Linked DNA regions of Homo sapiens. The protein of the gene in region 4 purifies or fractionates together with the protein of the main gene of each other region. This does not show direct contact. Each region holds a gene or a part of one and is shown on either strand. Other genes may lie near its edges. The genes, in order: VPS8, HEATR3, EIF2B3 and FZD10.

What was found.
Region 1: the proteins of FZD10 (region 4) and VPS8 purify together in Homo sapiens (co-immunoprecipitation; 3 studies listed by BioGRID and IntAct, with this or other methods). This does not show direct contact.
Region 2: the proteins of FZD10 (region 4) and HEATR3 purify together in Homo sapiens (co-immunoprecipitation; 3 studies listed by BioGRID and IntAct, with this or other methods). This does not show direct contact.
Region 3: the proteins of FZD10 (region 4) and EIF2B3 purify together in Homo sapiens (co-immunoprecipitation; 3 studies listed by BioGRID and IntAct, with this or other methods). This does not show direct contact.

Annotation. Positions count from the first base shown.
Region 1 is NC_000003.12:184,815,094-184,822,343, forward strand, and holds part of VPS8 (vacuolar protein sorting-associated protein 8 homolog), read left to right. Parts: intron 1-690; exon of another isoform or gene 691-1,788; intron 1,789-2,028; exon of another isoform or gene 2,029-2,351; intron 2,352-5,614; exon of another isoform or gene 5,615-5,639; intron 5,640-7,250. UniProt on the Homo sapiens protein: Plays a role in vesicle-mediated protein trafficking of the endocytic membrane transport pathway.
Region 2 is NC_000016.10:50,061,358-50,069,120, reverse strand, and holds the start of HEATR3 (HEAT repeat-containing protein 3), read right to left. Parts: upstream 3,152-7,763; 5' UTR 2,990-3,151; coding exon 2,852-2,989; exon of another isoform or gene 2,797-2,851; intron 2,755-2,796; coding exon 2,582-2,754; intron 2,480-2,581; exon of another isoform or gene 2,139-2,479; intron 342-2,138; coding exon 254-341; intron 1-253. UniProt on the Homo sapiens protein: Plays a role in ribosome biogenesis and in nuclear import of the 60S ribosomal protein L5/large ribosomal subunit protein uL18 (RPL5). Required for proper erythrocyte maturation.
Region 3 is NC_000001.11:44,871,401-44,878,650, reverse strand, and holds part of EIF2B3 (translation initiation factor eIF2B subunit gamma), read left to right. Parts: intron 1-2,955; coding exon 2,956-3,033; intron 3,034-3,824; coding exon 3,825-3,973; coding exon of another isoform or gene 3,974-4,010; exon of another isoform or gene 4,011-4,124; intron 4,125-7,250. UniProt on the Homo sapiens protein: Acts as a component of the translation initiation factor 2B (eIF2B) complex, which catalyzes the exchange of GDP for GTP on the eukaryotic initiation factor 2 (eIF2) complex gamma subunit.
Region 4 is NC_000012.12:130,157,383-130,165,585, forward strand, and holds the start of FZD10 (frizzled-10 precursor), read left to right. Parts: upstream 1-5,081; 5' UTR 5,082-5,560; coding exon 5,561-7,306; 3' UTR 7,307-8,203. UniProt on the Homo sapiens protein: Receptor for Wnt proteins. Functions in the canonical Wnt/beta-catenin signaling pathway.

The DNA.
Region 1 (7,250 bases), on a different chromosome or scaffold from region 4:
CACATAGGGAACTGTCATCTCTTATGATAACAGTGCCTTCTGGAATACCTCCTGAAGGACCTGCCTGAAACTGTTTTACAGCTAATTTTTAAATTTTTAAATAAGTGGATGAGTACACTCTAAAGATAAAAAGTATAGGATAGCAAATACATAAACTGGCACATAGTTTATTATCAAGTATTATGTACTGCACATAATTGTATGTGCTTAGCTTTTATACTACTGGCAGTGCGGTAGGTCTGTTTACATCAGCATCACCACAGACAGATGAGTAATGCATTCATTACAACAGCTGTGACATCACTGGGCTACAGGCATTTTTCTGCTCCATTATGTGTAATGTTAGGGGACCATGGTTGTATATGTGGTCTGTCGTTGACCCAAAACGTCTTTTTGGGGCACATGACTGTATATAAATGCATAAAAGATGTGACTGCAGATGACTCCTGTGTTATGCCATCCAAGATTAAGCACCCTAGAATAAAGAGAAATTCCAGAAGTACCTTGATTGGCCACATAGGACCCAAGAATGTGATGTGCCTACTCTTCTGCTCCGCTAGCTAGGCAGATAGGGTACTTGATTGGCAGCACCACCAAAATCACATGGTTGGAATGGAGGAGAAGCAGTTGCCCTCCAGGAAAGGTGGCAGTGGTGCTGGGGTGTTTTAACCTTTGTTTTTTCCGTTGCAGTTCAGCAAGACGCTTCCAGTTACTTCCTGCTCTTAAAAAAAAAAAAAAAAAAAGAATAAATCTCTCATGACTCTATATCCTTCTTGACACCTAACCAAGAGAAATTGAGATGACAGTTAATTGCAAATTAATAAAGAAGGCCATCATCTACTCAGCCTTTACCTAAGTGGAATCCTGTCTTTTGCGCATTTAACTTACAAGAATTTACCTGCATCAGTCAGTTATGTGAAGAAGAAAAGGGAATATATTTCAGCGTACACAAGGCCCTTGTGCTTTTTAGGAGGAGTTCTTTGGAGCTGAAGTGGGTCTGAGAAGAGACATTCTCATGATAGTGGAGACAGTATTATAGAAGCTGGAAGTGATCATTTTTCTCTGTTATTTATTTCACTTATTACCTCACACACATATTGATATAAAACTGATCAATAAAGTTAGAATTTCTACATTATCTAGATATTTGTAGACTTCGTTCATATTATTGTTTTGTATATTGTGATAGGGGATTAGATTTTTCTTTTCTAGGCTGGAGCTGATTGTCTGACAATTCATAGCAGTAACTTAGCACTCACTGTATACAGGAAGGTCTTAGGCACTGTTCCTTCCCCTTACTTTTCTTTTTAACATTTTTTAATCTGTATGTACTTATGATCACTCTCCTCATTTAGACATTCACCAACAACAGAAAGAGAAACAGAGGGTTGGGCTTTTTCGTCGTGGCAGTTCTGGCACTGTGAGCTACAATTACCTAAATGTGCCTTCTTGGAAAGAAATTCCAGGGTCAAGTAAAGCAGCCCATCCCAGTATATAGTAATGTTTCTCTAAATAGGGTCTGTATCTAAATGAATAAGGTGAAAATTGAGTACCCTCAAAGTACCCCAAGAGGGAGTCATATCAGAGACTGACAAGCGGTGGGTCTCTCAGGAAGCCCCATACGGCCAGATCTTGTTTTTCCATGTTGGAACTGCATGGCGTTTGTTATTTTGAGCACAGGTGACGTGAACTGCTTGGGTGTGAGGCATGTGAGAACTGAGACATAGAACAGCAGCTGACCATCTCCTATTCTGTGCCCACTGTGAAGCAAGAAGTTATTGAGTGGAGGTATGCAGAATCATGAATCATGATTCATAGAATCATCTATATGAATCATTTCTTTCTCTCCTTCCCGTTGCTGAAGATAATAGATGAAATCCTGCAAATTGAATGGAAGTATGGTACATTTCCACTGTATTCATCTTGGCCTCTAAGCTGAATTAACGTAAAAGAACATAAAACATCTGAGATTGTGGGATTTGCATCATGTTATAAATGAGCTAAGTGATTTAAAAATATCTCTCCTAGATGCAAAGAATGGAACTTGCACAGATGGAGGCGTTTTGGAGTAGTGTAACTAACCATACTTTGTATTACGTGACCAGAACTGCTATTTGAGATTCTGGAAGCCAGTGATGCAGTCTTGCTTGGGTATTTACCTAGGGAGGGAGGGAGGGAGGGAGGAATGGGTGGATGGGTAGATGGGTGGGTTGATCAGCTGCTGTGTCATATCGGCACGGGGAATAGAATGGTGAACAAGGCAGATCTGGTCTTTGCTCTCTCATGGAACCTGCATTCCAACTGGGGGCAAGGAATGGTGGTTTAGACAATGAGGAAATCATTACAATGTGGTAAGTGTAGTAAAAGAGGAGAACGATGTTATGGGTGCATACTAACAGGAAACAGCCTAGTTGAGCAGGGCAAAAAAAGGCCTTCCTAAGGAAGCAAAGTTTTAGCCGATAGTTGATAAATATGACCTGCAGTGGTTGACAAGCTTGACTACATATAAGTAGTATTCAATTATAACTTGGCTTCTTATGGTATAGATTCCTATATGCTGTGAGTCAAATAATATCCTCTGGAGCTTAACAATTACAAGTAATAACACTGATAGATTTAATTTGCAACACAGATGTTATTCCTGTCTCTTAGTTCCTATGTTAATCAAACATTTTTCGAATGTCTACCTAGCTGTGCAAGCCAGTAAGCCCAGTGATGTGGAATATTCAAAGGAGCATGGCCCCATTTTTATTATATAGCTGGGGAGAAAAGAGTCACATGGTAAATTAACTAATGAATCAGCATGAGGAAAGAGCCAAGCCACTGTTTTAAAAGAAGACATGTTTTCTGAATTCAGAGGATGGTTAGGGAAGGAAGAGGTCATAGGCAGATCCAGTTTGAACGGTGCCCAGAAGGAAGAAAGGAAGTTAGATAAATGTAGAGAAAAAGGAAAGGAAAGGGAAGGTGAATCAGCTTGAGCAGACATGAAGGGAAAGTGGAAGCTATTCATGAAGGACTCTTAGTGCAAAAATAATAAATTCAATTGTAAGGGAAGGAGGCAGAAGGATCAGCTCGTGTGATATCTGGAGTCACAGGCTTAGAATTTGGGATTTTATCCTGGAGGCATTGGGAATCTGTTAAAAATAAGTCCACTTGTGCTGGGCGTGGTGGCTTACACCTGTAATCCCAGCACTTTGGGAGGCTGAGGCGGTCAGATGGCTTGAGCCCAGGAGTTTGAGACCAGCCTGGCCAACATCATCTCTATGAAAAATTCAAAAAATTAGCTGGGCATGGTGGTGTGCGCCTGTAGACCCAGCTACTTGGGAGGCTGAAGTGGGAGGATTGCTTGACCTGGGAGGCAGAGGTTGTAATGAGCCGAGCTTATGCCACTGCACTCCAGCCTGGGTGACAGAGGGGGAACCTGTCTCAAAAAAAAAAAAAAAAAAGTCCATTTGCCAGAAGGTAATAGAAAACTAATAGAAGTTAACCCACCATTGCATTTTATTTTTCCCTTTACAAAGCAAACCACAAAACAAAACAAAGGAATGAAGAGAAATGCTTGGATTGGGAAGGCCAAAAATAAAATTTGCATGTAATGTTGTACTATATCATGATTTTGTGATTGTTTTCTAGCATTATATAGTAAATAAAAACTTGATTCTATTTCATTGTAATGTGAAAAAGTATCTCATATGACACTTTTAGGAGGAAAAGAATGTCAGGATTAAACAGGATCATGGAGCTTGAGAACAGTTAGGAATAAATGTTTCCCAAGGTGAAAACTGGTGAAAAGCCAGGCATGGTGGCACAGGCTGGTAGTTGCAGCTACTTGGGAGACGTGAAGTAGGAGGATCGCTTGAGGCCAGGAGTTTAAGGCTAACCTGGGCGACATAGCAAGATCCCATCTCTTAAAAAAAAACTGGTGCAAGTTTAACTTGGCGTAATATAGGTCACACATTCTAGAGTTCTTATTCAGTTAGCCAGTGTCATAATTAAGTCATTGCTGTTTATATGGCGCATATCTTTTTTTAATGGTCCTTGAATCTATTAATTGGTTGGGAATAACAATTAAGAGGAAATAACAGAATTATCAAGATGTCAGATAATCTTATGTCTGAACTATTAAAATACTCATTTATCAGCACTCAGAAGAGACAGCATACTGGGTAATTATGATTCCATGACATGTATTTCCTATCAGATTAATCTGATTTCATTCTAAGAGAGACTAAGAAATCATGAAGCCTGTTTTGTTATGTGCAAGTACTCTCTGGTATGGTATCCTCTTAAGAACTATAAAAACACTAGCTCACATGATGGTTGGGTGAAGAACTAGTTGTAGAATTGCATCCCAGCAGGAATTTATGAGTGGTTCATTATCAACCTTTTACTGGGATAACATTTAAGGGATAGCTGAAGCAGGATCAGTATCAAGAGTGAAATATTAAGCATCATATAGTAAGCATTCCATCATTGGTGCATATATTGGAATGAAGGGCCTGCTTAATAAACACATGGGCAACACCAACCCACAAGGTAAGGGTTAATATTTCAGAATGTTGGATATGTGACCAGAAACAAATTAACTTATATTTATTAGTACAGTTGACCCTTGAACAATGCGGGGGTTAAGGGCACTACCCCCTCAACCAGTGGAAAATCTGAGTACAACTTGTGACTCCCCAAAAACTTTACTACTACTACCTACTGTTGAGCAGAAGCCTTACTGATAACATTAACAGTTGTTTAACACATATTTTGTGTGTTATTTGTATTTAGTTACAATAAAGTAAGCTAAAGAAAAGATATTAAGATTCTAAGGAAGAGGAAATATACTTGCTTTTCATTACGTGTAAGTGGATCATTATAAAGGCCTTCATCCTTGTCTGAACGTTGAGTAGGCTGAGGAGGAGGAGGAGGGGTTGGTCTCACTGTCTTGGGTGGAAGAGGCGGAAGAAAACCCACTTGTAAGTGGACCCTTGAAGTTCAAACCTGTGTTGTTCAAGGATCCACTGTCTATTCATTTCCTATTGTTGCCGTAAATTACCGTAAAGTTAGTAGTATAAAACAATGCAGATTTATTTTACAGTTCAGTACTTCACAAGTCTCACCCCAGTCTCACTAAAATTAAGAGATCAAGACGACTTCAGTCCTTCTGGAGGCTCTCGGAGACCATCTGTTTCCTTGTCTTTCGCAGCTTCTAGAGGCTGCCTGCATCCTTGGCTCCTGAGCCCTGTTCTCCGTGTTCAACGCCTGTGACATGGTGTCACATCTCTTTCTCTGGCGTTCTCTTCTGCCTCTCTCTTCCCCTTTCAAGGACCTTTGTGATTACATTGGACCCACCCAAATCATCCGGAATAACCTTCCTGTCAAGGTCTTAATTTAACCTGCAAAATCCCTTTTGCCATATCAAGTAACATATTCATGGTTTCTGGGGATTAGGACTGGCATTGTTGGATACCCTCATACTGCCTACCACTGGTAGATTCCCAGCTTAGGTACTTTCTGAAAAATTCACAGAAGCTGCTCATGTGAACTCTCCTTTTAAAAAAAATTTGAGCATGGTGACCTTTTGATTCACCAGGTCTCTTTGAGTTGGAAAAACTTACTGACTAAAATGAAGAAAGGAATAATTGCTGGTAAGTGACAAAAGAGGAACTTGGGAAGGGGACATAGTTGGCTTCACTAATAAAGTGTAGACTAATGTTGATGTTAAAAAAAACCTAAAACATGATTTTAGAATGAGTTAGTAACAATAAGACACTTCTGTTATAATTAAAGTTTTTATTAAGTGTCTCTGTTGCTTTGGTGGGGGCTGTACTAGTCTTAGACAAAACCCCTATCATTCAGCTCATGAAGAACTGCTGTGATATCCAGGATATCGTTCTGATATGCTTAGCACTGGCTAGACCTTTACAAAAATACTGGATTTTGTTTTAGAATCTTTAACTTTAGAAAACTTTGAAAATTTTGAGGTTTTAAATGTAATAGCTAATATCTGTTGAAAATTATGTCCAGACATTATTCTCAATGCTTTGTAATCATATCATTTGTTCCTCACAGGAGCCCTGCAGAGTAGGTAGTTGCATTTATAAGAGCCAGGACTCTCAATTTTAAGTGCTAAAAGAAAGGGGGAAGTTGGGAGAGTATATGTTGGTTTATGTAGCCAGACTGCCAGAAGGCTATGGGCAGAGCTAACTTCATAGAAGACTAGAATCTGAGGCTTGAATAATGTCAGAACTTTCTTCTCTACTTTTTTTTTTTTTTAGAGACGGAGTCTTGCTCTGTTGCCCAGGCTGGAGTGCAGTGGCGCGAACTTGGCTCATTGCATCCTCCGCCTCCCGGGTTCAAGCAATTCTCCTGCCTCAGCCTCCTGAGTAGCTGGGACTACAGGCACACGCCACCACGCTTGGCTAATTTTTTTTTTGTATTTTAGTAGAGACGAGGTTTCACCGTGTTGCTGCCCAGGCTGGTCTTGAACTCCTGAGCTCAGGAAATCCACCCGCCTCAGCCTCCCAAAGTGCTAGGATTACAGGTGTGAGGCACTGTGCCTGGCCTCTACTTCGTTTTTTTAGATAGGTTTCATGCTTGCTAGAGAATCTGTACCTAGAACCTAAGTTCTATCAATAGAGGTTCATCTCCAGTGACAGATGCTTAGTGTTTAGTTAGGTGTGTGTTAAGTGAATGATTTCTTTTCTGCAGAAGCGAGCTGGGTGGGGAATGTGGGATCTGCTCAGCCACATTATTCATTGTATAGAGAACAATGGAAATATCTCTTCCTCATCAGTTCCATTTTAATGAATCCTGGTGAAAGACTCTGGCTATCACATAATCCCTTATACTAAGGGATTTTTGACCATTAGCCTCTACGAGAACACATGGTTTGAAGGAGCCCTTCCCAGAACAAGAGACGCTGTTCTGAGCAAACAACACAAATGTCCACAATATTCCATTTTAATGATATAGAAATAGAGAGGTTCAGAAAAGGTAAACAAATTAACCAAGGTCACAGATAGGAACTCATAAAGTCCAGATTCAGACTTGATTTATTTATTTTATTTTTTGGGGGGTCAGGGGTGGGGAGAAGTGATTATTTCCTGGTCATTTCTAAGAAAAGTGGCCACAACAGCAGACCTAATAATAGACTCTTTGGCTTGTGTTCTGTCCACTTTGCCAGCACATTACATTGGTAAAAGGAGCTCAGTGAAATGAAGGTCAGAAATGGGGCAGGGTAGCTTGGTGGGATGATG
Region 2 (7,763 bases), on a different chromosome or scaffold from region 4:
GTAAGAAGTTTAACATCTAAAGGAGTGAGTCTGTACAATTTTAGGAAAGTCTTTTCCAACTATCATAAAAATAAAGCTACAAAATAATAGAGATTAGTATCAATAATGAGAGCAGATTGGTGTTTCCAGGAAAAGGAATGAAATTTCCATAAGATGTTTAGATAGAAGACAAAGTCACCAACACCAAAGTACTAAAAAAAGTCTAAGTTTGCATCCCAAAAGCTACCATCAAGATACTGTAAAAACTGCATACCTCTTTTAGCAGCGCAACCAGAGGGGTCATGATATCCTTAGTCACCATGTCATCACAAACTTCAAAACCTCCACAAGCACTGAGATTTCTACACAAGAAGTTTAAAACATGTTTTACTTTCACATCACATGTCACAGAACACTTCTACCCTCTCACATTTCTATTTTTAGCCATATTTAAGGTTTCCCAGAGGAAATAGCTTATTGTTTCTGTCATACGCTGCAGAACCAATCCAGAGATTTCCATCTGTTCTGATCCATGTTCTACAAGATATAAACAGACGACGCTGTCATATAACTTAGTTCTGAGGTCTGAAACAGTATACAGGTGCATGGCTACAAGAAGGGGAGAGGGGAGACTTTTCTCATGTGAATAAATCACATCATGTATGAAGGGACCTTTTCTTGGAATCAAGACTACAAGGGCAGGGCTAGGTGCTGTGGCTCACACCTGTAATCCCAGCACTTTGAGAGGCCTAGGTGGGAGGATCAATTGAGCTCAGGAATTCAAGACCAGCCTAGGAACAGCGGGAGACCCCGTTTCTAAAAAAATAAAATAAAATAAAAAGCGAACTGCAAGGGCAGCAAGGTGGGGCTACTGAGAATGACACCCCCTAAAGCAGCCCTGGGTAAATTTTAATTGGAAAGACATGACTTCCGAGTACACAGCACTGTGCTAGTCCCTAAGGATATGGAGATAGTCAGAAGATGCCCTCACAATGTGCCAGGATCCCCCAGCCTCTGTATGCTGTGGGAGGAAGGGAAGGGCTTTCCACATGCTGTTTCCTCCCTAAAGGAAGAAGAGCGTCTATCCCCCCTCCATCAACTGGTGAATGCCCATTCATTCCTCCGAGCTCACCTCAAGCACCACTCACTCAGTCTTCTTCCCTGAACCCTTTGTTTGTACCCTCTTTTAGCACCCTTTGTCATTACCATTCATTGTAATCATACACTTATGTAACTGTTTGGTTAATGCTTGTCTCCCTCAATACACTTTAAGATTTCTTAAGGAGAGACATTGCCTTGCTCATTACCCCATGCCCACAGCTTAGCTCAGTGTCTGGCACACAGTTGGCACTTTATACATATTTGCTATATCAGTGAATGAAATATAAATAACAAACAGAGACAGAGCTGTAAGAACTACAAATACTAACCTCTACTCTTGCCCCCTCTGCAGTCCATTCTCTGCACAACCAGCAGAGTGGTCTTCACAAAATGTGTTGCAGCATGTCACTTCCCTGCTTAGAGTTAAGTCCTCAGCCCTACACCATCGTACAGCTCATCCCTCTCTCCAGCCTCACTTCCTGTAATTACCCACCCCTGCTCTTCTCAGCCACCTACCTACCCTCTCTGCTGTTTAACCACGTCAAGCTGCCTGCTGCTTCGCTTCTTTGCTGTTGCTGCTCCCTTTGTGGGGAATATTCTTCCCCCTATTTTCCCATGCCTCCTGGCTCTCTCACCCTGCACATCTCCTTTCACAAGTCATCTAAAGAGCACCTTTTTTTTTTTTTGAGACAGGGTCTTGTTCTATCACCCAGGCTGGAGTGCAGTGGTGTGATCATAGCTCACTGCAGCCTCGAACTCCTGGGCTCAAGCGATTCTCCTACCTCAGCCTCCTGAGTAGCTGGGATTACAGGCACCCACCACCATGCCCGACTAATTGTTTATAATTTTTCTACAGACGGGGTCTTGCTATGTTGCCCAGGTTGGCCTTGGACTCCTGGCCTCCAGTGATCCTCCTTCCTTGGCCTCCCAAAGCAATGGGATTACAGGTGTGTGCCACCGCGCCCGGCCCAAGAGCACCCAATTCAAACTTCCCACCCCCAACTCATCATCATCTCGTTTTCCCACAGCAATTCTCACTATTTAATATTATGTTTTACCTTTTTACTAGCTTCCTGTCTGTCTCCCCATCAACATGACTTGTGCCAAGACAGGGATCTTGGCTGTCAACAGATCTCGCTCAAAAGTCTTGGCTGCTCAAAGTCCCCTGCATCTAGAACGATTCCTGACACATGAACTGAAGAGTTCATCCAAGCAAGGGACCCTAAGGAGGGCTTTTGGAGAGTGTAAAACGTGCGCAAGGCGTGAGGGCAGGACGCCTGAGCAGGTGGACGCTGCAGGTGAAGCAGCCAGGTGGACAGATGAGATGCGGGGATACTGGGCTTCTCCGGAGCCTGGAGACTGGCTTCAAATCTCTGCAAACGGGAGACCGGGCCAGTGCCTGATGGCACACAGAAGGCGCTGGGTGACCGCTGCGACCGCCCGCAGCCCAGACGCGGGGGAGGCCAGCGGTGGGCACCGCCCCGCACCCTTCCTGGCTCACCTCAGCGCGCCGGCTGCAGTCTCCCTGACGGCCAGGCTGGGGTCTAGCAGCAGCGGCCCGAGGCGGCGCACGGCGTCTCGTCGCGCCAGGCCCGGGAGTGCCGGCCGCTGCTGCACCAGCCGGGCCAGCCCTGCGCAGGCGCACTCGCGGACCTCGGCGCTCGGGTGCTGGAGCTGCGGATGAGAGCGAAAAGGGTCAGAAGGCGCGCAATGCGCACGCGCGCGGGGCAACCTCGTCTCGCCTCCCGGCCCGACGGAGCCCTCGCCTCACCTTTTCCAGCAGCTCCGCCGCCGGCCCGTCGTCCTCCTCGCCTCCGGTCCCATTCGCCGCCGCAGCCGCCTCGGCCTGACAGTCGCCCGTAGGGGAGAACTGAGGTCGCTTGAAGCGCTTCGTCCGGCTCTTGCCCATGGTGACGTGCGCTGGGCGGACAGACCACCGAGAGAGGAGGGCAACAGCAGGCGGTGGAGGCTGCCGCGCCGTTAACAAGGTCCGTTGCTGCTGCTCAGCTGGGCCGGCTGACGGCTGCAGCACACATGGGCAAGCCGTGCGCAGGCGCACGGCGCGTCGTCTGCCGGGTCGGGGTTGGGGCGGGGCGGGGTGGGGGGAACTGGCGCACGGAGCGCGCAGGCGTGGAAGAGGGCATAGGCGGGGCCAGCTTCGGCAAAGGGGCGGAGCCTTGTGGGTTTACCGGGTAAGTAGGAGGTTGGACTAGAATAGTAACGCCGACCCGGGCGAGAGGATCACTTGAGGCCAGAAGTTCGAGACCATCTTGGGCAACATAGGAAAACACTCCACTCCCTGTCCTCCCCACCAAAAAAATTAAAAATTATCTGGGCATAGTGGCGTGTGTGTGTAGTCCCAGCTACTTGGGACGTTGAAGCCGGAGGATCACTTGACCCCAGGAGTTTGAGGCTGAGGTGAGCCGTGATCCTGCTACTGCACTCCATCCTGGGCGACAGAGCGAGACCCTGTCTCAATCAATCAATCAAGCAACCAATAAGTTAGTAACACCGGCTACAAATAATCAAATGTGATTAAGAATACCTAACTTGCAAGGTTATTGTAAGTTCTGTAAAGTTCATAAAGTTCTGTAAAGTGCCTAACACCAAGCCTGATATATAGCAGGTACTCAAAAAGCATTAACCACGATTTTATTTTGTGTCCCCAGCACCTCCCATAGCTCCTGTCGTAGACAGAGACTAGTTAATGTTTTGGAACGAATGTGTGTCTATATTTGATAAAACAGAATCGCTTAAGAACCTAATCTCCCTGCCTTAGTTTCCTCATCAGTGAAGTGGGGACATCGATAGTATATACCTCATGGAGTTGTTACGAAGACTAAATGTGTTCATATGTTTAAGGTGCTAAGAACAGAGACTGGCAGATACTAAGCACTATGTAAATGTTTGGAAACGTATTTAACAAAGAGATTCTTTTGCAGATATTTGTTGAGTACTAGGTACAGTGCTGGGCATTGGAATAAAGCAGTAATCAAGACAGTTTGGTTCCTGTCCTCTCTCCCTGTCCTTATGGAATTTACAGTCCAGGGAGAGATCTGTTGAATATATAATTATATGAATAACTTTGGTTATAATTGTGGTAAATACTAAGCAGAGGGAAAAGTACAGGAGAATCTTAGGTGGTCTTTATAATTAGACATGTAACGAGTGAGTACTCAATATATGCATAGCTTTGGGTCAATTTTCTTTTTTTCTTTTTGTTTTTGAAACAGAGTCTCACTCTGCTGTCCAGGCTGGAGTGCAATGGTGCGATCTCGGCTTATTGTAACCTCTGCCTTGGAGTTCAAGCAGTCCTCCTGCCTTAGCCTCCTAAGTAGCTGAGATTACAGGTATGTGCCACCATGCCCAGCTATTTTTTTTTTATTATTATTTTTAGGAGAGACGGGGTTTTACCACGTTGGTCAGGCTGGTCTCGAACTCTTGATCTCAAATGATCTGCCTGCCTCAGCCTCCCAAAGTGCTAGTATTACAGGTATGAGCCACCACGCCCAGGCTCAGGTCAACATTCTACTGGAGAAAATTTCCATTCCATGGTAACCCTACTGTCAAAGAGTTGACTGTCCAGTAAGGGAAATTAATTACTATGGCAAATTTTAGAGAGTAACAGAAGTGTAGCTCATGTTGCATTTGGGCCTATCAAAGATCAATCTTGGGCTGGGCACTGTGGCTCACACCTGTAATCCCACCACTTTGGGAAGCCAAGGTGAGCAGATCACCTGAGGTCTGGAGTTCAAGACCAGCCTGGCCAACATAGCGAAACCCCATCTCTACTAAAAATACAAAAATTAGCCAGGCATGGTGGCATGTGCCTGTAGTCCCAGCTACTTGGAGGCTGAGCCAGGAGAATCTCTTGAACCTGGGAGGCAAAGGTTGCAGTGAGCCGAGATCACGCCACTGCACTCCAGCTTGGGTGACAGAGCGAGACTCCGTCTCAAAAAAAAAAAAAAAAAAAAAATCAACCTTGGAGCCACTAAATATATGTTGGTGGGTTTTACTTCCTGTATATTTTATCAGGCCATCGATCTGCCTGCCACCCACCTAGTCCAGGCAACCGTCTTTTTGTTGTTGTTTTTTTTGAGATGGAGTCTCTTTCTCGTTGCTCAGGCTGGAGTGCAATGGCATGATCTCGGCTCACTGAAACCTCTGCCTCTTGGGTTCAAGTGATTTTCCTGCCTCAGCCTCCTGAGTAGCTGGGATTACAGGTGCATGCCACCACGCCCAGCTAAATTGTATTTTTAGTAGAGATGGGGTTTCACCATGTTGGCCAGGCTAGTCTCGAACTCCTAACCTCAGGTGATCCACCAGTCTCGGCTTCCCAAAGTGCTGGGATTACAGGCGTTATCTACCACGCCTGGCCTAGGCTACTGTCTTTTATCTTGAGCACGTGGCTCTCTGGTCTCTCCATTTCCACCCTGCCTGTCCCCCATCCATTGAGCAGCTAGAGTGATCTCAAAATATCCCTCCACCTTTCTCCTTATATTGTATTCACTTCCTCGCTTAAAACTTTTCAGTGGCTGCCGGGCATGGTGACTCACGCCTGTAATCCCAGCACTTTGGGAGGCTGAGGCGGGTAGATCACTGAGGTCATGAGTTCAAGACCGGCCTGGCCAACATGGTGAAACCATGTATGTACTAAAAATACAAAAATTAGCTGGGTGTGGTGGCACGTACCTGTAATCCCAGCTACTCAGGAGGCTGAGGCAGGAGAATCACTTGAACCCAGGAGGCAGAGGTTGCAGTGAGCCCAGATCACACCACTGGTCTCCAGCCTGGGTGACAAAGCAAGACTCCGTCTCAGAAGAAAAAACCAAAGAAAACAAAAAACTTTTCAGTGGCTTCCCTTTCTCTTTGGATAAAGATCAAAATCTTACCAGGGCTGCAGGGTTTCACCCCGGCCCCCAGCCTCACCTCTTCATTTTGCTCTTTTAGCCAACATCTATGGGGCCTCAGGGGTTTGCACAAACCCCAGCCCCTACCCTATGAACTAGTGAACACAGTCTTCATAGGCAGAGACAGGGACTTCGTAGTGAGAGACAGGTCTCCCTTGAGACAGCATGTACCTCGTTTCTTTGCTTCAAAGCACATATCAAAATTACAGTCGTAATTTTCAATTTCTTTGTGAACGGTTATACAATTGCCTTTCTCCCCAGCTGAACACTAGCACCTATAAAGACAAGACAGTGCCCATTTTCACACATCACAGTATCCCCAACACTAGCCCAGAGCCTGGCACAAGATAGTCATGCAATTTCTTGAATGAATGGAGTGACCACGTAGGAAAGAATAGGGCATTAAATCTAGATGGAATAAGATGACGAGAATTTAGATGAGATAGAAACAGATTCCTCCTGTTTCTCTCACTGTGAGGATGAGCAAGAAAAAAGTGGTTCAAAACTCAGGCTGGGCGCGGGGGCTCATGCCTGTAATCCCAGCACTTTGGGAGGCTGAGGCGGGCAGATCACCTGAGGTCAGGAGTTCCAGACCAGCCTGGCCAGCATGGTGAAACCCCGTCTCTACAAAAAATACAAAAATTAGCCAAGCATGGTGGTACATGCCTGTAGTCCCAGCTACTCAGGAGGCTGAGGCAAGAGAACCACTTGAACCTGGGAGGTGGAGGTTGCAGTGAGCTGAGATCATGCCACTGCACTGCAACCTGGGCGACAGAACGAGACTCCGTCTCAAAAACAAACAAACAAAAAAAACCTTAACTAGATGAGCACAGAGGACTTTTAGGGCAGTGAAAATACTTTAGATGATATAATGGTGGATATATGTCATTGTACATTTTTCCAAACGTCTAGAATGTATAACACCTAGAGCAAACCCTAATGTAAACTACGGATTTGGGGTGATAATGGCATGTCAGTGTAGGTTCATGGTTGTAACAAATGCATCATGGTGGAAGATGTTATCATGGGAGAGGCTGTGCATATGTGGGGGCTGGGAGTATGTGGGAAATCTCTGTACTTTCCTCTTTTTGCCGTGAACCTGAAACTGCTTTAAAAAATAAAGTCTTCGGCCAGGTTCACTGGCTCAAACCTGTAATCCCAGCACTTTGGGAGGCCATGGCGGCTGGATCACTTGAGCCCAGGATTTCAAGACCAGCGTGGGCAACATAATGCGACCCCATCTCTACAAAAAATTAAAAAATTAGCTGGGTGCGGTGGTGTGTGCCTGTAGTCCCAGCTACTTGGGAGGCTGAGGTGGGAGAATCACTTGAGCATGGGAGGTGGAGGCTTCAGTGAGCCGAGATCACACCACTGCGCTCCAGCCTGGGTGACAGAGTGAGACCCTGTCTCAAAAAATAAAACTAAATTCTTAAAAAATATAAATACGTATAAATACCATAGCTAGAGCAGAACTTTGTGGTCTGTTATCATTAGTTACTCTTTCCAGTGATAAATTACCATTGCTGCTAAAATGAGTAATTAGCTTTATTTAATGAGCTTAAGAGCCCTTCTGGGAGCCACCCTCAGTCAATTGTCAGTCTTGGAAGGAGCCCAGTGATCTTTAACCAGTCTAATCTTCCTTCACCAGTCATTTTTTAAAATGCAGTGAAGTAGTGATTATCTAACCATCCCTTTTTCCTGCAAATTATCTTTGTCAAGAGGGAATTTTTGAATTAGACTGCTTAGAAGCCTCTTCCCTTGAGACAAGTTGGA
Region 3 (7,250 bases), on a different chromosome or scaffold from region 4:
ACCCTGTGAAAATATAATTGCAGGTGTAGACCAGGGTGGCAGTGGAGCGCAGAATAATATAAAAGAAATTGTTGAAAATTGGGATTGAGGCCGGGCACAGTGGCTCACGCCTGTAATCCCAGCACTTTGGGAGGCTGAGACGGGTGGATCGCCTGAGGTCAGGAGTTCGAGACCAGGCTGGCCAACATGGTGAAACCCTGTCTCTACTAAAAATACAAAAATTAGCCAAGCATGGTGGCATGCACCTGTAATCCCAGCTTCTCAGGAGGCTGAGGCAGGAGAATTGCTTGAACCTGATAGGTGGAGGTTGCAGTAAGCTGAGATTGTGCCACTGCACTCCAGCCTGGGCAACAGAGTGAGACTCTGTCTCAAAAAAAAGAAAAAGAAAATTGGGATTGACTCCTGAAGAAAACCTGGCTCAGGAATCTGTAGGACCCACACCAGATAAAACCTCAGGTGAGCCTCAACCTGTATTGGTTACAGATCCAAGGGAGTCCCAAGCCAGAGAGCTTATGAGAAATCATAGCTAGTCCCACATTTACCCATGACTAGCATCTTTCACGCTGGTCTGGAAAGATGTTCATGGATAACCTGAGTGGGAAGACTTGTCCAGATCACAGGTGCACCGCTGTGTCCACATCATGAAAGAGGGACCCTGCTCTCGAGTGAGCATGCTGGGAAAAGTATCCTTTGAAGTGCCAACAGGGACTATGCAGCAGACGGGCCTGAAGGGCCTTGGGTGGAGTGTGGAAGAAGAGAACCTAGGGCTGGGGGCTTGGAATTAGCCTTCACATTCCAGTGTAGCCGTGCTGACAAGGCCTCCGTCAGCTAGTGTGGCTGCCACGCACAGTGCTCTGACCAGCATTCTGTCTATGCTGGAGAATCATAGACAGGCGCACTACCTGTGCCTTCCTAATAGACTGGTAGCCAAAGCCCCCCATACCTCTAACCTTTCCAGGTTTCTCACACTGGAGAGGGAATAGTGTGAACTTCCCCTTCATGTTTTCTTTTGGCTGGGGGATAGATGCCTTCTCAGGGTCTGTCCTTGATTTCGAATTTGTCTAAAATGGATCTCATCCTCACCTCATGCGTGGTCACAGTGGTCCAGGAGGTGACCAGGAACCCAGGATGCTTATGATCAGGATGCGGGGTGTTCCTTGACCTGATCAGGCCTCCTTTCCCAAGAGGTGGTATGTGGGTATCTCAAAGACTGGTCTCAGTGCCTCCCAGCCAAGGGACATGGCATTACTTTCAAGGAGGAGCATTCAAAGCTAAGAGACTGACAATAAGGCCATCTAGAAGCTGCTGCATAAATAATCTTGGTCCTAGGGGGAATGCAGCAGCCTCCTGCTCCCCCTCACTCAGACAGGAAGCTATGGCTGAGAACTCCCTGTATCTCTGATTGAGCACTGGGTTCTACCTAAGGTGTTTTTTTTTTTTTTTTTTTTTTTTTTTTTTATTGATCATTCTTGGGTGTTTCTCGCAGAGGGGGATTTGGCAGGGTCATAGGACAATAGTGGAGGGAATGTCAGCAGATAAACAAGTGAACAAAGGTCTCTGGTTTTCCTAGGCAGAGGACCCTGTGGCCTTCCGCAGCGTTTGTGTCCCTGGGTACTTAAGATCAGGGAGTGGTGATGACTCTTAACGAGCATGCTGCCTTCAAGCATCTGTTTAACAAAGCACATCTTGCACCGCCCTTAATCCATTTAACCCTGAGTGGACACAGCACATGTTTCAGAGAGCACAGGGTTGGGGGTAAGGTCGCAGATCAACAGGATCCCAAGGCAGAAGAATTTTTCTTAGTACAGAACAAAATGAAAAGTCTCCCATGTCTACTTCTCTCTACACAGACACAGCAACCATCCGATTTCTCAATCTTTTCCCCACCTTTCCCGCCTTTCTATTCCACAAAACCGCCATTGTCATCATGGCCCGTTCTCAATGAGCTGTTGGGTACACCTCCCAGAGGGGGTCGTGGCCGGGCAGAGGGGCTCCTCACTTCCCAGTAGGGGCGGCCAGGCAGAAGCGCCCCTCACCTCCCGGATGGGGCGGCTGGCCGGGTGGGGGGCTGACCCCCACCTCCCTCCCGGACGGGGTGGCTGCCGGGCGGAGACGCTCCTCACTTCCCAGACGGGGTGGCTGCCGGACGGAGGGGCTCCTCACTTCTCAGACGGGGCGGCTGCCAGGCAGAGGGTCTCCTCACTTCTCAGACGGGGCGGCCGGGCAGAGACGCTCCTCACCTCCCAGACAGGGTCGCGGCCAGGCAGAGGCGCTCCTCACATCCCAGACGGGGCGGCGGGGCAGAGGCGCTCCCCACATCCCAGACTATGGGCGGCCGGGCAGAGACGCTCCTCACTTCCTAGATGGGATGGCAGCGGGGAAGAGGTGCTCCTCACCTCCTAGATGGGATGGCGGCCAGGCAGAGACGCTCCTCACTTCCCAGACGGTGTGGCGGCCGGGCAGAGGCTGCAATCTCAGCTCTTTGGGAGGCCAAGGCAGGCGGCTGGGAGGTGGTTGTAGCTAGCCGAGATCACGCCACTGCACTCCAGCCTGGGCACCATTGAGCACTGAGTGAACCAGACTCCGTCTGCAATCCCGGCACCTCGGGAGGCCGAGGCTGGCGGATCACTCGCGGTTAGGAGCTGGAGACCAGCCCGGCCAACACAGCGAAACCCGTCTCCACCAAAAAAATACGAAAACCAGTCAGGCGTGGCGGCGCGCGCCTGCAATTGCAGGCAGTCGGCAGGCTGAGGCAGGAGAATCAGGCAGGGAGGTTGCAGTGAGCCGAGATGGCAGCAGTACAGTCCAGCTTTGGCTCGGCATCAGAGGGAGACCGTGGAAAGAGAGGGAGAGGGAGACCGTGGGGAGGGGGAGTGGGAGAGGTAGAGGGAGAGGGAGAGGGAGAGCTACCTAAGGTGTTTTCTGATCTTTAGTGACCAAATCTCTGTCCTTAAGGTGCCCAAATTGCTGTCTGCTCTCTGTCCAGAAGAACCACCAGTCCATTCGTCAGCCCAGATTGTCAGCAAACACCTGGTAAGTGCTAGTGTGGCCAGGACGGGCATGAGATGTTCTTTGGGAGCATCGAGACTTGTTTTTGAGAAGCCGGATTGAGGCCTTTAAGTCCTGAACCTCATCAGCCCCAGGGAAATCACAGTGGGTTCTGAGAATAAAATCTCACTCAACAAGACTGCCTGGGCAAGTAATGACCTTGTAAGGAAGGGTCCATTATAGTGTTGGGACTCAGACACAGGAGCTCTCAATCTCAGCCTGAAAGACTCTAGTCATGGGTAAATGTGGGACTACCTATGATTCTCATAAGCTCTCTGGCTTGGGACTCCCTTGGATCTGTAACCAATCCAGGTAGAGGCTCACCTGAGGTTTTATCTGGTATGGGTCCTACAGATTCCTGAGCCAAGTTTTCTTCAGGAGTCAGTCCCAATTTTCTTTTTCTTTTTTTTTGAGACAGAGTCTCACTCTGTTGCCCAGGCTGGAGTGCAGTGGCACAATCTGTCCCCCTTCTAACTCTGATTTGAGCACACTCTTTAAGAGAGCACATCTGTATACACAAGTGCATGAGTGTGTATATGTGTCTGTTGTTTTATTTTGTTTTCTTGGCAAGAGAGGAGGGCCCATGCTTCAAATAGGTTTGAGTTGGTCTCAGAGGTGTTGTATGACCTTGTGGCCCTGAGAAATACTGATCATGGTCCCTCTTGCTGAAGTGTCTCTATGGAAAGATCCCATTAGATCCCAGCTTGAGGGATCTGGAGGGTGGTTTGCAGTTGGTTGAGATGGGTGGACAGAGTTTTATATTTTGCCTTTTACAGGTTGGAGTTGACAGCCTCATTGGGCCAGAGACACAGATTGGAGAGAAGTCATCCATTAAGCGCTCAGTCATTGGCTCATCCTGTCTCATAAAAGATAGAGTGACTATTACCAATTGCCTTCTCATGAACTCAGTCACTGTGGAGGAAGGGTATGTTTCCCCCTGTACCCACTTGAGGCAAAGATAATGGAAAAATGCCTTCAAAATTCTGAAGGAAGGTTAATTTTAACCTAAAATTGTATACCCAGGCAAAGTGCTAATCAAGAGGGCAATAGAATAAAAACATTTTCAGATATCAAAAGTCTCAAAAACTTTACTAGGAAATTTATTCCTCTAAAATGGAAAATAAACCAAACAGAGAAAGATCAGAAACAAGAGATTCAACTCAGAAAAAGGGCAAAAAGAATCCATGGGATAACAGTGAACAGAGATAAGAATGACAGCTCTAAATGGGGCATAAAGGGATTAGTTAATCCAAACTGGAACAAAACCAAAGAATCCAGGAAAGATTTATTCAGCAAGATGCAACTGATAAAATACCAGATACATACAAACATTTGAAAGTCGATTTAGGCAACTGGCTAAAAGTTTGAAGTTGAATCGGGGATAACATAGAAAAAACAACACTATTTAACAAAAACAAGACTGTTATTAACTCTGGGAAAATGAAGAAGTTGTACAAGTTGAATATCCCTAATCCAAAAACCCAAAATCAAATGCTCCAAAATCCGAAACTTTTGAGCACCAACTTGACACTCAAAGGAAATTCTCACTGGAACATTTGAGAGTTCAGATTTTTGGGTTAGGGATGCTGAAACGGTAAGTATAATGCAAATATTCAAAAAAATTTTAAAAAATCCAAAATCTAAAACACTTCTGGCCCGGCACAGTGGCTCATGCCTGTAATCCCAGCATTTTGGGAGGCTGAGGCAGGTGCATCACCTGAGGTCAGGAGTTCGAGATTAGCCTGGCCAACATGGTGTAACCCCATCTCTACTAAAAATACAAAAAAAAAAAAAATTAGCCAGGTGTGGTGGTGTGCACCTGTAGTCCCAGCTACTCAGGAGGCTGAGGCAGGAGAATGGCTTGAACCCAGGAGGCAGAGGTTGCAGTGAGCTGAGATCGCACCACTGCACTCCAGCCTGGGTGACAGAGCAAGACTCTGTCTCAAAAAAAAAAATAAATAAATAAAAAATAAAACACTTCTGGTCCCAAGTATTTCAGATAAGGGATACATAACCTGTATAAGAAATGAAAAGACCATAGTTTGCTATGGATCAGCTACAAAATAGAATTTACATAGTCATAATAAACCTGACTACTGGCCAAAGTTATGCTATAACTCTATTGAAAGGATGAAAGATGGAAAGGGAAATGGGGGTAAGGGAGAAAGGAGAGCTAAATTCTCATTTTTCACTGTAGAAAGCCAATTGATAATGCCTAAAGCTGAAAAATAAAGAACTAGTAATACAATTATGTTAATACCTAGAGGCATGGAAGTAATACCAAATTACTCAGCAGAAAGAATTAAAAGAGTTGCCTCTGGGAAGAGGGAAATGAGGAATAGGGGTTGCAGGGGACTGCTGATTTTCATAACAAAATCTTCAGAAGTATTTGCTTTAAACTACTAATATCAGTTGGCCAAAAATATCCAGAGTTTTGTGGTACGCTGCTACCAGTGGTATGCTGATAAATTGTTGACAACCAGCCCTCCAAAGGAAAAAATAAGCGACATAATTCGAAACATTTGCTAATTTCTGTGGTGTAAATTATTCCACTATAGCCAATGATATCACCTAACGCTGAGTTGAGAAGAGATGCTAATAATTGCCTCTCCCAAGCTAAAACAAGCCAGCGTCAGCACACCACTAATAGAGACCCCTCTCAAGCATTTCACTGATTTATCAGATACTAACAGACCCACTCTCTGATTAAGATTGTGCTAGGCAGTGAAAGAAACAAAACGACATAAGTCTTAATCTCTTCCCTCAAGGAATTTATACTATGTGCAGTAAGAAGTGATAGGTGCTATGGTAGAGATCTGTAAGGTCAGAAGGGAGGAAAGGGTCAGGAAAGGCTTAAGGAAATGACCCTTGAGCTGAATCTTGGAAAATGAGTAGAGCCACCTGAGCTGGAGAAAGGAGTGGTTTTGGGGGTAGTGTTTTTTTGTTTTTTTTCAAGACAGGGTTTCCCTCTGTTGCCCAGGCTGGAGTACAGTGGCATGATCATAGCTCACTACAACCTCAAACTCCTGAGCTCCAACAGTCCTCCTGCCTCAGCTTCTCAGGTAGCTAGGACTACAGGCGCACACCACCAGGCCCAGCTAATTTTTTTAAAAAATTTTATAGAGATGGGGATTTTACTGTGTTGCCCAGGCTGGTCTTGAACTCCTGGCCTCAAGCAGTCCTCCCACCTCAGCCTCCCAAAGTGCTGGGATTACAGGCATGAGCCACTGCACCTGGCCAGAGGTATTCTAGATACATAAAAAGTGAAGTGGCCAGCCACATTGGCTCATATCCATAGTCCCGGCACTTTGGAAGGTCGAGGTGGGCAGATTACTTGAGCCCAGGAGTTTGAGACCAGCCTGGGCAACATGACGAAACCACATCTCTACAAAAACTACAAAAATTAGCCTGGAGTGGTGGCATACATCAGTAGTCTCAGCTACTCAGAAGGCTGAGATGGGAGGACCGACTGAGTCTGGTATGTCAAGGCTGCAGTGAGCCAAGATTGTGCTACTACACTGCAGCCTGGGTAACAGAGTGAGAGCCTGCCTTAAAATACATACATATACAAGAATTAGTTGAGCATGGTGGTGTGCACCTGTAACCCCTGAGGTGGGAGGATCAACTGAGCCCAGGAAGTGGAGGTTGCAGCAAGCAATGATCATGCCACTGCACTCCAGCCTAGGTGACAGAGTGAGACCCTATCTCAAAAAAAAAAAAAAAAAAAAGATTGTGAAGTATGAAAGAGCATATCTTATTCCAGAAACATCTCCCTATTTTGATCTTAGCTCAAATGTCACCTCTTCAGAGGAACCTTCCCCAACTACCCTATTGGAAATAATCTGTCCCACTAACCACCATCACATCAACCTGTTTCATTTCCCTCATAACACCATCACTATTTAGTCTTATCTTTACTTGTCTCTCACAAGTAAAACATTAGTTTCAGAATGTAAGTGCCTTATCTCTCTTGTTCACTTTTATATCCTGAGGGCCTACAGGAACTCAATAAATATTTGTTATATGAAAGAATGACAAACAATTCACCATGACCAGAATATAAATCAGAGAGGGATGGATACAAGAGACAAGGCTATACATGCAGATGGACAAGGGCCAAGTAATGGATTGTTCCCTGAGGCGTTTGATAGGTAATGGTAATTTAAGAGCTTAAAGCAAAAGAGCAGCATGATTAAATTAGC
Region 4 (8,203 bases):
ATAAGCTGTCCGCTCAAGCTGTTTGGAATACAAACACCAACCAAAACAACACACGCACACACTCTTTTGTGTCGTGTTTCTGGAATTCTGTGATGTTTCTTTTCTCATATATTCCTCCAAAAACAGTCCAGTACAGAATTGCAGGTTGAAGCACTGTGAATAGGCTCTAGGTTTGCCCCAGGTTAAGGGTTAATTTGTTGAGTTTCAGAACAGGTAGGCGACGCCCTCCTGGATTTTAAACAGATAACGTCCTTGCCATGTAAGAGCACTTAGAAGGCTGGCTTTATCTCTTTAAAAAAAAAATATATATATATATATACACACACACACACACACATATATACACACACACATATATATACACACACATATATACACACACACATACACACACACATATATACACACACATATACACACACATATATACACACACATATATACACACATATATACACACATATATACACACACATATATATACACACACATATACACACACATACACACACATATATACACACACATATATACACACACATATATACACACACATATATATACACACACACACACATATATACACACACTATATATATATATATGATTGTGTTTGTTGTTGTTGCAGTTGCAGAGATGAAAAAGAAATCTGTGTCTTTAAATGAGGAGGGGCTGCGTAAGGAGGCTTGGGCAGCAAAAAGGCTAATACGCTGTGGAAGAGAAGGAGTTTAATCTAATTTAGTTGGAGGGTGTCTGTCTGCGGTGTTGTTTTTTGGAGTGTGGGAATAGAGGCGGGAAGCTGCCCCCTTGAATGGTCCCTCCTGAGCCAGGAGCAGTGGGGAGCCAGTCGACGCCAGCGATCCAAAGCCCGGCCTTGAAAGAGGATTAAATCAATGCTCTGATTTGCAATTCACACTAGTGCACCCCGTGGAACCTTTGGTAATATTTCAAACCACATTTCAAGGGAAGTGGCCTTAAAATAGCTGCCTAAATTGTGCTGGAGCCACACTGGACACCCCACTCATCCACTTTAGGATGGGGGTGCTTCGGGGTTCATTTCTCACCTTCCCCCAAACCTCCACATCTCACAGCCAGTGTTTTTAGGCAGAATTAAAACTTTTGCGCCTGTTGAATTCGCTGCGACTTGCATGGCCTTTCTGGTGGTACAAACTGTGTTTTCTTTGCTAAGTATCACTTCAGATCACTAAAGGTATTTTCCCTGGAGAAAAAGATGGGGGCACGCCACGGGGAGCATGCCTACTTGATCAGAAAACATAATTTTTTGTGCATGTTTTATATCTGATAAGTTTCTGCAGAAACTTGATACTAGATGAGGTCAGAGAAAACAAGGTCTATTCACATCAGACTTCCCTGCATGTGAAGCAATTATTGGTAAATAGATCAGTTTTCATTCTCATACTTGAAGGTAGAATTGGAAATGTCCCGGACTAAATACAAACATTGACGACACGAGAAGACAAGAGAAGAAACACAAGAATCACTTACGTGGATCCTCACACTTGAATGTACCAAGAGAGGTGATTCAAGCAGCAGCTACTGAAAGGCGTTGCGACAGCCTGAACCACTTTTTATCTCAACATTCACCAGCACGATTTTACTTCTGTTTATGAGCTTTCTTCCTATGCCACCAGTTTACTCTTGCAATTAGCTTGTAACATGCTAAGCTTATGGTTTAATTTCTTTCTGTTGCTGAAAGACTCAGTACTTTTTTATCTTAAAGAGATTATTTGGGTTTTCTCTAATCCCATTTCAGAAAACCTCGCACAGTGCTTATAATTTCCATTGACTATTACATAATAAGAAAAGATACAACTTTGATTTTTAGCAATATCCGTGTCAAAGTACTTTTATACTTTTGACTTTGTGAGTTTAAATGGAATGAAACTGGGCCTCTCTTTCAATTCCCCTCCACCTCCAAAAAATATTTAGTTCTTGTTCAAAACACTGCCTGACTCCTGAAATATTCTCTCTCAAAAACCTCATACTTTCCCTGGTGAACGTTTGCAAGAACCTGAAGGCGGATAATGTTTACTGATAGCTTTCCGATAGACAGACATTTTTAGGTGGTTGGGGGTAAAAACATATTCCTTGTCTCTGCACGTTATGTGAAATCATGTTTAATTATAAAGTTTCATTAAAAATCTTTGCTCAAAATTTTAGAAGCCTAATAAGATTTCCATTAATTTAAACATATCACTATTCCCACGACGGCTCCAAAGCTTTCTTTTCCGTCTTTCATCCATGGTTAAATATGTAAATAAAATGTCTAAAGTCATTCTTCAAAGAAGACAAAAGAAAAAAGAGCTGAGGGAAAGACAGCCATAAAATTCCTCCCAATTCTCCATAACATTTGCCAGAGGGGGGTCGGTTGCCAGCCAGGGCTGAGCAGCGGGGGACCCCGGCTGCTCCTTAGACTCACACATCTCAAATCCCACACACAGGAAAAAAAATAAAATAAAATATCTTTTCAGCTGGGGCCATCAAAAGAGCCTTTTCATTTATTAGTTACAGACTTATCTTCCAGTTGCTGATTTCTCAGAACCCTCATTTCTCTATAATAAAGTCTATTTGTTGGTTTCCATCTCAGCTGGACAGGGCGAAGCACTTCTGCAGACATTTTTATAAAAAACGAGAGAAAAAGGCAATCTGAAGTGGTTATAGCTAAAATAATGGGCCTGAACGTGGCTGAATTAAAACAGCACAGAAAAGATCAATTAGGAGGCACTTTCTCAAATAGCTCACACCCAGCTCCCGGCGTTTGGCTCTCACTCTTGCACTAAATATTTCTAATAGTTGCTGAGGGAGAGACACAAAAAGGAAAAGAAGGAAAATAGGGCCCAGGAAGGACCTTTGCCAGGAAAATTCTAGAAAAGCCAAGTGATTTCCGCTGAATTAATTTTAATTTAAAGGTCCTGAAAAATTACTCACTAGACAAAAAACAACAACAACAAAAAAAAAAACACTATAATAAAAATGGCAGTCTTTCAAAAATAAAATCATGCAACTTTTCACTTGGGAAATAACACAGTTGAAGGTGGTGTTCTAACTGCCCGGAGTTTCTACCTTCTTTTTCACTTTCTCCCTCACCCCGACTTCCTCCAGCACCTCCTAGTGAGACCCAGGACACCCAGGGACAGCGACCCAGGGGTGGGTGCCTGAACCTGCCTATTAATTCTGGGATTCTGGGCGCTCAAATGTCTGTTGAACGGATGAATGAATGAGTGGAAAGGTGAGATTTCCCCAAGTTTCTTACCGATGTAAAAATTGTAGGGCTTGTTTTAATTAAAAGCCAATACTCTCCGAGGAAGTGGCCCCCTCCTGCACGGCGTGCAGAAAGCTGGTCAGTGAGGGGGGTTCCTGGCGGGCCCCATCTCCTTCCCGGGCGCTTCCTAGGGAGACCTTGCCCCGTGCGCAGCGTCCCCACCGCGGGGGCCCGTGCAGCCGCCCCCCACGCCGGGTGGAGCGCCGCCAACGCGGGAAGCCCCAGCACTGCCTCCAAAGATGTCCGCACACTCCACCCTGCTCCCTGGAACTATCCTCAAACGGGCAGGGGGCAAGCGAGGCCGGTGGACGCGGGACTCGCTCCTCTGACCTCTCCCCGGCCCCCCGGGAGGTAGCGGGAGATTGCACACGCGATCCTGCGAGTTTCCGAACTTTGGAAGATCGTGACCCGGAGAGACCCTGGGAGGAGAGGGCCGGCCACCTCCTAGGGGTGCTGTTTTTTTAAGGGTCAACCCAGGACGCTACGGGAAGCACCTGGCGCATCCTTGGGAACAGTGGGGCTTGGCGGTGGGCGCCCACCGCGAACGCCCTGGGCGGGGGAAGGGAATGGCGGGGGGACGTCGTGTCCTAAGTGACCCCGTCACAGACCCGCCCCAATCCGAGGGGGGATGAGCTCAGAGGACCTGCCCAGGACGCTCCTTCTCCACTTTCCAGGAAAACCGAGCGGCGTGCGCGCCTCCGTGTCCTCGCGGGAGCTGGGGGTCCCCGGGCAGGCGCTGACGCGCTCCTCCCACGACCCACTCCATCCCACCCTACTCCGGGTCCTCCTGCGGGGCTGCAGCCAAGGAGGGCGCTGGCCGGGCACATCACTCGCCAAATCACATAAATACCCCACGAGCGAATGACTTCCTATAATAAATAAACTCAGCCGCCAAGAAGGCATCTCCAGCCCTGCTGGCGCGAGGCCCCGGCTCTGCGGCTTCGGAGGGGGCGGGGGTCACCGCGGTACAAACCAAGCCCGCACTTCCCGCGGGGTGGGAGGCGGTGTTCAAAGTCCCGGGACGCTTCCCGCCCCTCCCCCTTCCCGCCTTCTTAGAGGAGACCTCGGATGAGCGGCCCTAAAATCCGGATTCTCGAGCCCCTCCCCCTCCCCTTAGCTCGTCTCTTTGAAATTTCAAAGAAAATCCCTCCTCGGAGCCCGGAGCCCGGGGCTGGTAGCACCTCCCCAGCCTCAGGAAGATGCGGGCAGGTTTACAAGCAAGGGCCTACTTTATGGCCCAGGCTATAAAACGCAAATCCCACCTCCCTTTGAAAGCGCCCTCCGCCCGGGACTCACCATAAAAGGAAGAGAAGATGCACCCCGCGCCCCTCGCCGCGGACCACCCCCAAACCCCTTCTCCCGCCAGTCCCCGAACTTCCCGTAACCTCGGCGTCCTCGGGGTGCCGGGGACCATCCCGGGGACCGCCGGGAAAGGGGGCGCCGGCGGAGAGGATAGCGAGAGGCAAAGTTGGAGGCCAGGCAGAGAGAGGGCGAGGAGAGGCGGGCGGGACTGCCGGGGAGGGTCGCAGCGCGCAGAGCCCCGCGCGCCAGGCGGGCTGTCCCGGGGCTGGCGGGCGACGCGGGCGGGACTAGGCGCTGCGCCCCCCGCAGGCTGGGCTGCAGGCCGGGGGGGATCGGCCCCCGCGGGGCCCGGGAGCCCGCGGCGGGGCGGCGGGGAGGAGGCTGCCCCGGGCCGCTGCGCTTTCTCATGCAAAGCAGCGGCGGGGCGGGGCGCGCGGCCCGGGGGCGGGGCCTGTCAGCGCTCGGCTTTTCTGCCCCCCTTTGCCTTTTTGCGAGTCTTCTCATCCCGGGACGCAAACCTCGAAACAGCTGCCGGCTGGTCCCGGCCGAGGCCGGCGCAGGGAGGGAGGAGCCGCCCGGGCTGTGGGGGCGCCGCGAGCTGGGCCGGCCTCGGTGTGCCCGCGCCGCCAGCCCGCTCCAGACGCGCCACCTGGGCGCTCCAAGAAGAGGCCGAAGTTTGCCGCGGCCGTGAGTTGGAGCTCGCGCCGGGCCGCTGCGCCGGGAGCTCCGGGGGCTTCCCTCGCTTCCCGGTATTGTTTGCAAACTTTGCTGCTCTCCGCCGCGGCCCCCAACTCGGCGGACGCCGGGCGCGGAGAGCCGAGCCGGGGGCGCTGTGCGCAGCGCTCGGGCCAGGCCGGGCGGGCATGGGCGGGGGCCCGAGCAGGGGTGGAGAGCCGGGGCCAGCAGCAGCCCGTGCCCGGGAGCGGCGGCGCTGAGGGGCGCGGAGCTCCCCGCGAGGACACGTCCAACGCCAGCATGCAGCGCCCGGGCCCCCGCCTGTGGCTGGTCCTGCAGGTGATGGGCTCGTGCGCCGCCATCAGCTCCATGGACATGGAGCGCCCGGGCGACGGCAAATGCCAGCCCATCGAGATCCCGATGTGCAAGGACATCGGCTACAACATGACTCGTATGCCCAACCTGATGGGCCACGAGAACCAGCGCGAGGCAGCCATCCAGTTGCACGAGTTCGCGCCGCTGGTGGAGTACGGCTGCCACGGCCACCTCCGCTTCTTCCTGTGCTCGCTGTACGCGCCGATGTGCACCGAGCAGGTCTCTACCCCCATCCCCGCCTGCCGGGTCATGTGCGAGCAGGCCCGGCTCAAGTGCTCCCCGATTATGGAGCAGTTCAACTTCAAGTGGCCCGACTCCCTGGACTGCCGGAAACTCCCCAACAAGAACGACCCCAACTACCTGTGCATGGAGGCGCCCAACAACGGCTCGGACGAGCCCACCCGGGGCTCGGGCCTGTTCCCGCCGCTGTTCCGGCCGCAGCGGCCCCACAGCGCGCAGGAGCACCCGCTGAAGGACGGGGGCCCCGGGCGCGGCGGCTGCGACAACCCGGGCAAGTTCCACCACGTGGAGAAGAGCGCGTCGTGCGCGCCGCTCTGCACGCCCGGCGTGGACGTGTACTGGAGCCGCGAGGACAAGCGCTTCGCAGTGGTCTGGCTGGCCATCTGGGCGGTGCTGTGCTTCTTCTCCAGCGCCTTCACCGTGCTCACCTTCCTCATCGACCCGGCCCGCTTCCGCTACCCCGAGCGCCCCATCATCTTCCTCTCCATGTGCTACTGCGTCTACTCCGTGGGCTACCTCATCCGCCTCTTCGCCGGCGCCGAGAGCATCGCCTGCGACCGGGACAGCGGCCAGCTCTATGTCATCCAGGAGGGACTGGAGAGCACCGGCTGCACGCTGGTCTTCCTGGTCCTCTACTACTTCGGCATGGCCAGCTCGCTGTGGTGGGTGGTCCTCACGCTCACCTGGTTCCTGGCCGCCGGCAAGAAGTGGGGCCACGAGGCCATCGAAGCCAACAGCAGCTACTTCCACCTGGCAGCCTGGGCCATCCCGGCGGTGAAGACCATCCTGATCCTGGTCATGCGCAGGGTGGCGGGGGACGAGCTCACCGGGGTCTGCTACGTGGGCAGCATGGACGTCAACGCGCTCACCGGCTTCGTGCTCATTCCCCTGGCCTGCTACCTGGTCATCGGCACGTCCTTCATCCTCTCGGGCTTCGTGGCCCTGTTCCACATCCGGAGGGTGATGAAGACGGGCGGCGAGAACACGGACAAGCTGGAGAAGCTCATGGTGCGTATCGGGCTCTTCTCTGTGCTGTACACCGTGCCGGCCACCTGTGTGATCGCCTGCTACTTTTACGAACGCCTCAACATGGATTACTGGAAGATCCTGGCGGCGCAGCACAAGTGCAAAATGAACAACCAGACTAAAACGCTGGACTGCCTGATGGCCGCCTCCATCCCCGCCGTGGAGATCTTCATGGTGAAGATCTTTATGCTGCTGGTGGTGGGGATCACCAGCGGGATGTGGATTTGGACCTCCAAGACTCTGCAGTCCTGGCAGCAGGTGTGCAGCCGTAGGTTAAAGAAGAAGAGCCGGAGAAAACCGGCCAGCGTGATCACCAGCGGTGGGATTTACAAAAAAGCCCAGCATCCCCAGAAAACTCACCACGGGAAATATGAGATCCCTGCCCAGTCGCCCACCTGCGTGTGAACAGGGCTGGAGGGAAGGGCACAGGGGCGCCCGGAGCTAAGATGTGGTGCTTTTCTTGGTTGTGTTTTTCTTTCTTCTTCTTCTTTTTTTTTTTTTATAAAAGCAAAAGAGAAATACATAAAAAAGTGTTTACCCTGAAATTCAGGATGCTGTGATACACTGAAAGGAAAAATGTACTTAAAGGGTTTTGTTTTGTTTTGGTTTTCCAGCGAAGGGAAGCTCCTCCAGTGAAGTAGCCTCTTGTGTAACTAATTTGTGGTAAAGTAGTTGATTCAGCCCTCAGAAGAAAACTTTTGTTTAGAGCCCTCCCTAAATATACATCTGTGTATTTGAGTTGGCTTTGCTACCCATTTACAAATAAGAGGACAGATAACTGCTTTGCAAATTCAAGAGCCTCCCCTGGGTTAACAAATGAGCCATCCCCAGGGCCCACCCCCAGGAAGGCCACAGTGCTGGGCGGCATCCCTGCAGAGGAAAGACAGGACCCGGGGCCCGCCTCACACCCCAGTGGATTTGGAGTTGCTTAAAATAGACTCCGGCCTTCACCAATAGTCTCTCTGCAAGACAGAAACCTCCATCAAACCTCACATTTGTGAACTCAAACGATGTGCAATACATTTTTTTCTCTTTCCTTGAAAATAAAAAGAGAAACAAGTATTTTGCTATATATAAAGACAACAAAAGAAATCTCCTAACAAAAGAACTAAGAGGCCCAGCCCTCAGAAACCCTTCAGTGCTACATTTTGTGGCTTTTTAATGGAAACCAAGCCAATGTTATAGACGTTTGGACTGATTTGTGGAAAGGAGGGGGGAAGAGGGAGAAGGATCATTCAAAAGTTACCCAAAGGGCTTATTGACTCTTTCTATTGTTAAACAAATGATTTCCACAAACAGATC